Regions from separate parts of the Homo sapiens genome. Here region 1 is linked to region 2. The links come from fine-mapping of genetic effects on gene expression. A gene starts in region 2. The other region holds a variant in brackets. All regions are shown on one strand. Distances are between the middles of the regions.

What was found. PIP is the estimated chance that this variant, and not a neighbour inherited with it, causes the effect.
Region 1: its variant is the best candidate, but not a certain one, in a credible set for the expression of KRT73-AS1 in whole blood (INTERVAL, PIP 0.86).

The regions. Positions count from the first base shown.
Region 1 is chr12:52,541,819-52,544,654 of GRCh38, forward strand. KRT71 (keratin 71) reads right to left here. Exons shown (of 9, transcript NM_033448.3): 9 at 2,091-2,836. The coding sequence ends at 2,714. Among named protein-coding and RNA genes, the nearest start is that of KRT71, 9.9 kb to the right of the region's middle. The variant C/T (reference allele first, on the strand shown) is at 1,277.
Region 2 is chr12:52,608,210-52,611,118 of GRCh38, forward strand. KRT73-AS1 (KRT73 antisense RNA 1) reads left to right here and starts at 1,642. Exons shown (of 3, transcript NR_126005.1): 1 at 1,642-2,909. It overlaps KRT73 (keratin 73), which reads right to left. Exons shown (of 9, transcript NM_175068.3): 7 at 2,406-2,626; 8 at 1,038-1,072; 9 at 1-243.

The sequences.
Region 1 (2,836 bases), 66 kb before region 2:
AAAATGCTTTTTAAACTGTAAAGCAACAGGTAGGCACCCATCAGAAGAAAAATATGCACTATCACTTCCTCCACTGGTGACCGTGGCAGACATTACTAATCGATCAAACCATTCTTTCCATCTGTATCTGGATGCCACCATAGCATCCCCCAAATCACAGTTTAGGCTGATGGCTCCCGGTTCTGGCTGCTCATTAGAACTCCGTTGCTGACTTTTAAAATACACCAGTCAGTGCTTAGGCCCTACTTCTGGTAGCCTTACTTAATTGGTTTGGAGTAGAGACTTAGACAGCAATATTTTTCTAAGTTCCTGGGTTATTTTTCAGCCTGTTTAAAGAACTACTACTCTTGGCAGCCATAACCAAATTACCATGTAGATTCACATGGTGGACACCTTGCCTGCTAGTCATTGTCATTATTTCCTTTCCTCAGAGCCCTCACTTGCTCCCAAAATTGTCCATCAAGCCCTGCCTTCTCATGCTGGAACCTGTCAAGCTGATAGCTCAGGCCCCTGCCATGGGCCCCAGTGCTGGGTTTCTGAGTCTCCTGCAGGAGGCTCCAGTCTCCAGCACTTGGTTTTGTGGCTCTAGAAAACAGACTCAGAACCCAGGATAACCCTGCCCACTCAGGAGAACTCTGTGAGCCCTGGGGCATAAAGGGAGTTCTTCCCTCCCTCCTCAAATCTGTGAGATAAACCAGCATCATCTAGAGAAGCCTCCACCTTCACATTTGAGAATCTAGCCATTTCTTTTAGCCTCTCAACTGGAAAGTTCTTTCTGCTATCCAACCTCGGTCCCTACTGTTGCAAAGGCAGGAGGCTAGCAAAGGCAGCAGGTGTGCATGGTGCCTTCACTGAGGAAATGGCAATGTCTGTGCCCAGTACTGAACACACACACACACACACACACATGCATGCACACACACACATGCCTCATCTTATCAATCAAGGACGCAAACATGTTGTTGAGTCTTATTCCACTTACCCACCTGCTAGATGACGGTGCTGACAGGTTGATGACAGCCAGGAGTCTCCGGCTCTGACCATCTCCTGGGCAGGGGCTTTTGAGCCTTGCCCTAAGCCCCAGTCACTACTCTAAATGTCCTAGATGTCAACTCAGACCATCCGTCCCTTCCTCCGGACCCTCTGTCTTCCTCTTCCATTATACTTGGTCTTCTTGCCCCAAACCTTCATCCTCTGATCCCCCTCCAGCCCAGCCCCAATACCAGGCCTCCCTGCTCCTTTATGAAACTGAAACCCTCTTCCTTCCCCCAGATGA[C/T]GTCATTAGTGTGGCTACTGTGAGACTAGGTCGCTGCCCACTCACTGCAAAGACGTTGGCTTCCCACCCACCTGCAAATGCCCTGAGCCTCCTACACCTCCCCTCCCCACCCAAGACACAGAGCTGGCCTAGGGAATCTGTCTGTTCACTCTCCTTACACCCCTTACCAAGGCAGGACTGGCCATCACCATAGTGGTTCTGGAAGGTGGGATAGGAGTATGTCTGGGGCAGTGCCAACCCCCCAGTCACTGAAATTCATAGCCCACCCCCACCCCATGGTGGGACCCCAGCTCACTCCTCCCTACACCAGCCCCAACTTCCAAGACTTGTTACTTATCTTTCCATCTGAGAAGCCAAGAGTGTGGGACTCCCACCTGCTGACCCCCGCAGGAGGCCAGGCCTCTGAGCGGTGAGAAAAGGGCTGGACAAATGCAAATACCTGTGCACTAAGCCCACCTTCCAACGAGGAAAGGTGCAGTCTCAGAAAGAGGCAAGGTCAGGTCAGGAACACGACCATTTCTCTGTCACTGGACACAGTTTGTGCATGTCCATCTGCTGAAGCCTCCAGCCAGTACATGCACACGCTTTCTGGGCTTCTCCTTTCCTCCCTCCCTGCCCCTCCTCCCAGACCCTGCTCCACACCCCATTTGCCTCCTGAAAATTAACACAGACATATAGGCTGCATGGGCAATACACAGTGATGTACTTGTGTGTGTGTGTTTGTGCTTCATGCATTCATGAATGTACATGGTGCGCGCTCATGTGAGTGAATTGAGGTGCATGTGCATACTTTGAATACTCAGAGACCAAGCCATGAGATTGTGCTGTTTATTGAGGTTGCAACAGAGGAAGGCCATTAAGAATAAAGGAAAAGTGAACAGTGCCTGCTTTTCTCTGCTTCTGGGTGCAGGTGAGTGGAGAAAAAGGCCCTGAATTGCACTTGGTCCCACTCAGATTTGAGACTGAGCTAGATGTGGGGGTGGGGACTGGGCCACTCTTGGTTGTTTGTCCTTCAGTCCTCCTTTTCTTAAACACAGAGCCAGCTCCTGGCATAGGCAGGAACTATGCTAGGTCCCAGTGTGTGCGGGGCCTTGGGCAGAGACCCAGGGAGCCCAGCAGAGTAGTTAGCGACTGCGCTAGAGGCCGGGCAGAGGAGGAAAGCTGGCAGCCAGGACCTGGGCTGGTGGTGTAGCTGGGGGACCACAGCCAAGGAGTTAATAGGGTGTGTACAGGGAGGAATTTCACCAAGCTTGGTCATCCAGGCCTTCCCAGGATCAGGAAGACACAGGCTGGGAGAAGTGGGTGGCCAAGGCCAGTGCCAGGTGTATGGGAGCAGGACCAGCAGGGTGGAGATGGAGCTGAGAGTGGGCTGTGGGAAGTACAGTGTGGGATCCAGAGCCGGGTCATGGAATGAGGCGGGGCCCGGGGCAGTCTTCTCTACCGACTGGTTTTCTTGGAGGGTGCACTCAGGCTGGAACCCTTCCCTAGGGTGTCTTTGTAATCGTTGGCACTGCCCCGGCTCCTGCCCTCCCCGCCTCTCACGCTGCACACTCCAGAGAT
Region 2 (2,909 bases):
TTTTGGTGGGTGAGCTTAGAGCTAAGGTCTTTCCCTGGGAGTCCCTGAATTCACTTGCACTCCCCAGCCTGGTCCTGGCTTCCCCACGGGGGCTACAGTTCCCACTGCCAGTGACACAGCCCCCAGGCAGCATGCTGTAGCCCCCGCTGACAGAGCTGGGCCAGTAGCCGTAGGTGCCAGCATTGCTGAATCCAAAGCCAGCCCCTGTGCCTGCCATCCCGGCCATGGAGCTGTTGATGACCGCTGCAGAGGAGGGAGGGACGAGTGATCAGTGTATATCCCAGGACAGAGGTGGCCTTAAGTCCCCCTCCAACCTCCCAGCCCCACTAGCTTAAATACCTCCTTCTTAAGCAAACACTTCCCATCAACCATGAACTTGGGTTCATTTGAGCAACTCAAGCGCGGGAAGAATAGCCCCAGTCCTGCAAGACTCCCAAGTCAGTCACCTTGTCATTCTATGAACAAACAGGAGTAGCAAGGGCTTTCCCCAGGGGACAGATGATGCTTGAGCATCAGATAAGCCAGCAGGTTCTTGCATTTAGCTTTACAATACCTTCTGAGTATTTTTCAAAAGAATTTCCTGATTGTTAAAATTAGGGAGTTTCTGCTGGTCCCACTATAAGAAAGAGACTGCCAAACCCTGTGGGGCCAGCATTAAACTGGCTTGCACAGTGGTCCACACACCAGTCTCCACTCCCATTGAGGAGGCACCACTCTGTGCTCAGTTTCCTTCATGCAGGAGAGCCGGTGTGGGGGTGACAGAAGAGGGGAGGGGCTGAGAGTTTCACCACAGCAGGCAGGAGATTGCTATGAAAGAGGCTAGTGTGCAGTATCAGAATGTCCTGGGCACTAGCTCCACCTGGAAGAAGTAGCTCTGAATGGGGAGGCCGCAGGTCTCAGCAAGGAAGGTGAGTATGTGACCAAGTGGTCAACAGGCAGAGCCAAGCTCTTCCTCAGGGGGCTGGGCGGTGGACACCCACCCACTTTGTGTTTGTTGATGGACTAAAAGTATTCCCTCAGAGTCATGAAATACTCACAAATGCTCACGGAGTTGGTATATTCTCCGGACATCCTGCAAGAGAGAAAAGCACAGGAGAGTCTGAATCACGTGGACTCCCATAGTGGCCCTCACTGCCTAAACACAGGCTGGGGATCCCCAGCCAGACCAGCTCAGCCTTCACGCACCCCACACTTGCCAGATGGCACTGGCTGCCCTTGCATGTCTCTAAGCCCTCCCTCTCGCTCCTCAATCTACTCTTCCCACTGCAGAGATGTGGAACCTGCAACTTTGGAACCCCCAACAACATTACCACCCCCAAGGTCCCTCCTGCAGGGTTTCTCTTGAACCCATTTCTTTACTACTGTGAGCAGCTGTCTGAATAAATACATATGTGGAAAGATCAGGATCAGGAGTTGCTACTAATGAACGAACTGTATGATTTTGGGGCAAGTGACTTCTCTCCAGGTCTCAGTTATAAAATGGTGCTTGGTTAGAACAGGGTTTTTCAAATGTTCATGCTTCGTGTGCCACCCTTCTGACTGTTGCTAGGACCATGTTTGACTTGTACTGTTAGATATTTAGTATTTTTAATTGACTCTGCCTTTTACGACAAAAGTGCATTTCTTTTAAAAAGAAGTTTTTTATCACCAGGGTAAATAGAAACCAGTATTATTACCTAACCAAATAAGAAAAAAAGTAGCAGTAAAAATAAATATAATGAAAAGAAAACAATTTAAAACTTTTGGGCTAAATAATGCTATTATTTTCCCAGAGATGCTGCACCTGAGATCTACTGTCTCTTTATCAATAGGGGATATTTGTAAGTGTCTGAGAGGTGTTTTTGTGTTTTGTCTGTTTGTTTGTTTGTTTGTTTGTTTGTTTTTGAGATGGAGTCTCATTCTGTCACCCAAGCTGGAGGACAGTAGCAGGATCTCAGCTCACTGCAACCTCAGCCTCCTGGGTTCAAGCGATTCTCCTGACTCAGCCTCCCAAGTAGCTAAGATTACAGGCATGCACCACCACATCCAGCTAACTTTTGTATTTTTAGTAGAGACGAGGTTTCTCCAATGTTGGCCAGGCTGGTCTCAAACTCCTGACCTCAGGTGATCCACCCGCCTCAGCCTCCCAAAGTGCTGGGATTACAGGCACGAACCACTGCGCCTGGCCATCTGAGAGGTGTTAAAGACACAACAGCACCCAGCTAAGACTTTCTCCAAAGAGTCAAAAGAGAACTGTAAAGGAAATTGCTGTCACATTATCTGGCAGGATGCTGTTTGAAACTATGCTTGTGGGTGAAGTAAACACATCGCCAGCTCGCCGCCCCCTCCCCCCCGCCCCCAACCACACTCTGGGAAACTTTAAGGTGGAGACTTGCAGTTTCTTCCAGTCCCTCGGTCCCACCCACCTGCACTCCTCGCCCTCCAGCAGCTTGCGGTAGGTGGCGATCTCAATATCCAGGGACAGCTTCACGCTCAAAAGCTCTTGGTACTCGCGCAGCATCCGTGCCAGCTCCTCCTTGGCCTGCTGCAGGGCGCCCTCCAGCTCATCCAGCTTGGCCCTGGCATCCTTGAGGGCACAGTCCCCCCGCTGCTCGGCGTCAGCGATGGCCGTCTCCAGGTTGGCACACTGGGGTCAGGAGGTAGCATTTCTCCCTGAGTTCCTCCCTGGGCCTCGCTTCACCTCTCCCATGCTCTCAATGGTTGAGCCCTCCTCTGTCCTGCCCCATGTCCTGGAGCAGAGACCCAGCCACATCCAGGTGGAGTCCTGTCAACCTGAGACTGAGAGGCTTGCTACGCTGGGCCCCACAGCTTTATGAAAATAATCTGCAATTGTTCCAAACTTCAGATGGGAGCTAAGGGTGAGGGATGAGAGCAGGACCTCCATTTGAAGAAGGGGATTCTGAAATGGA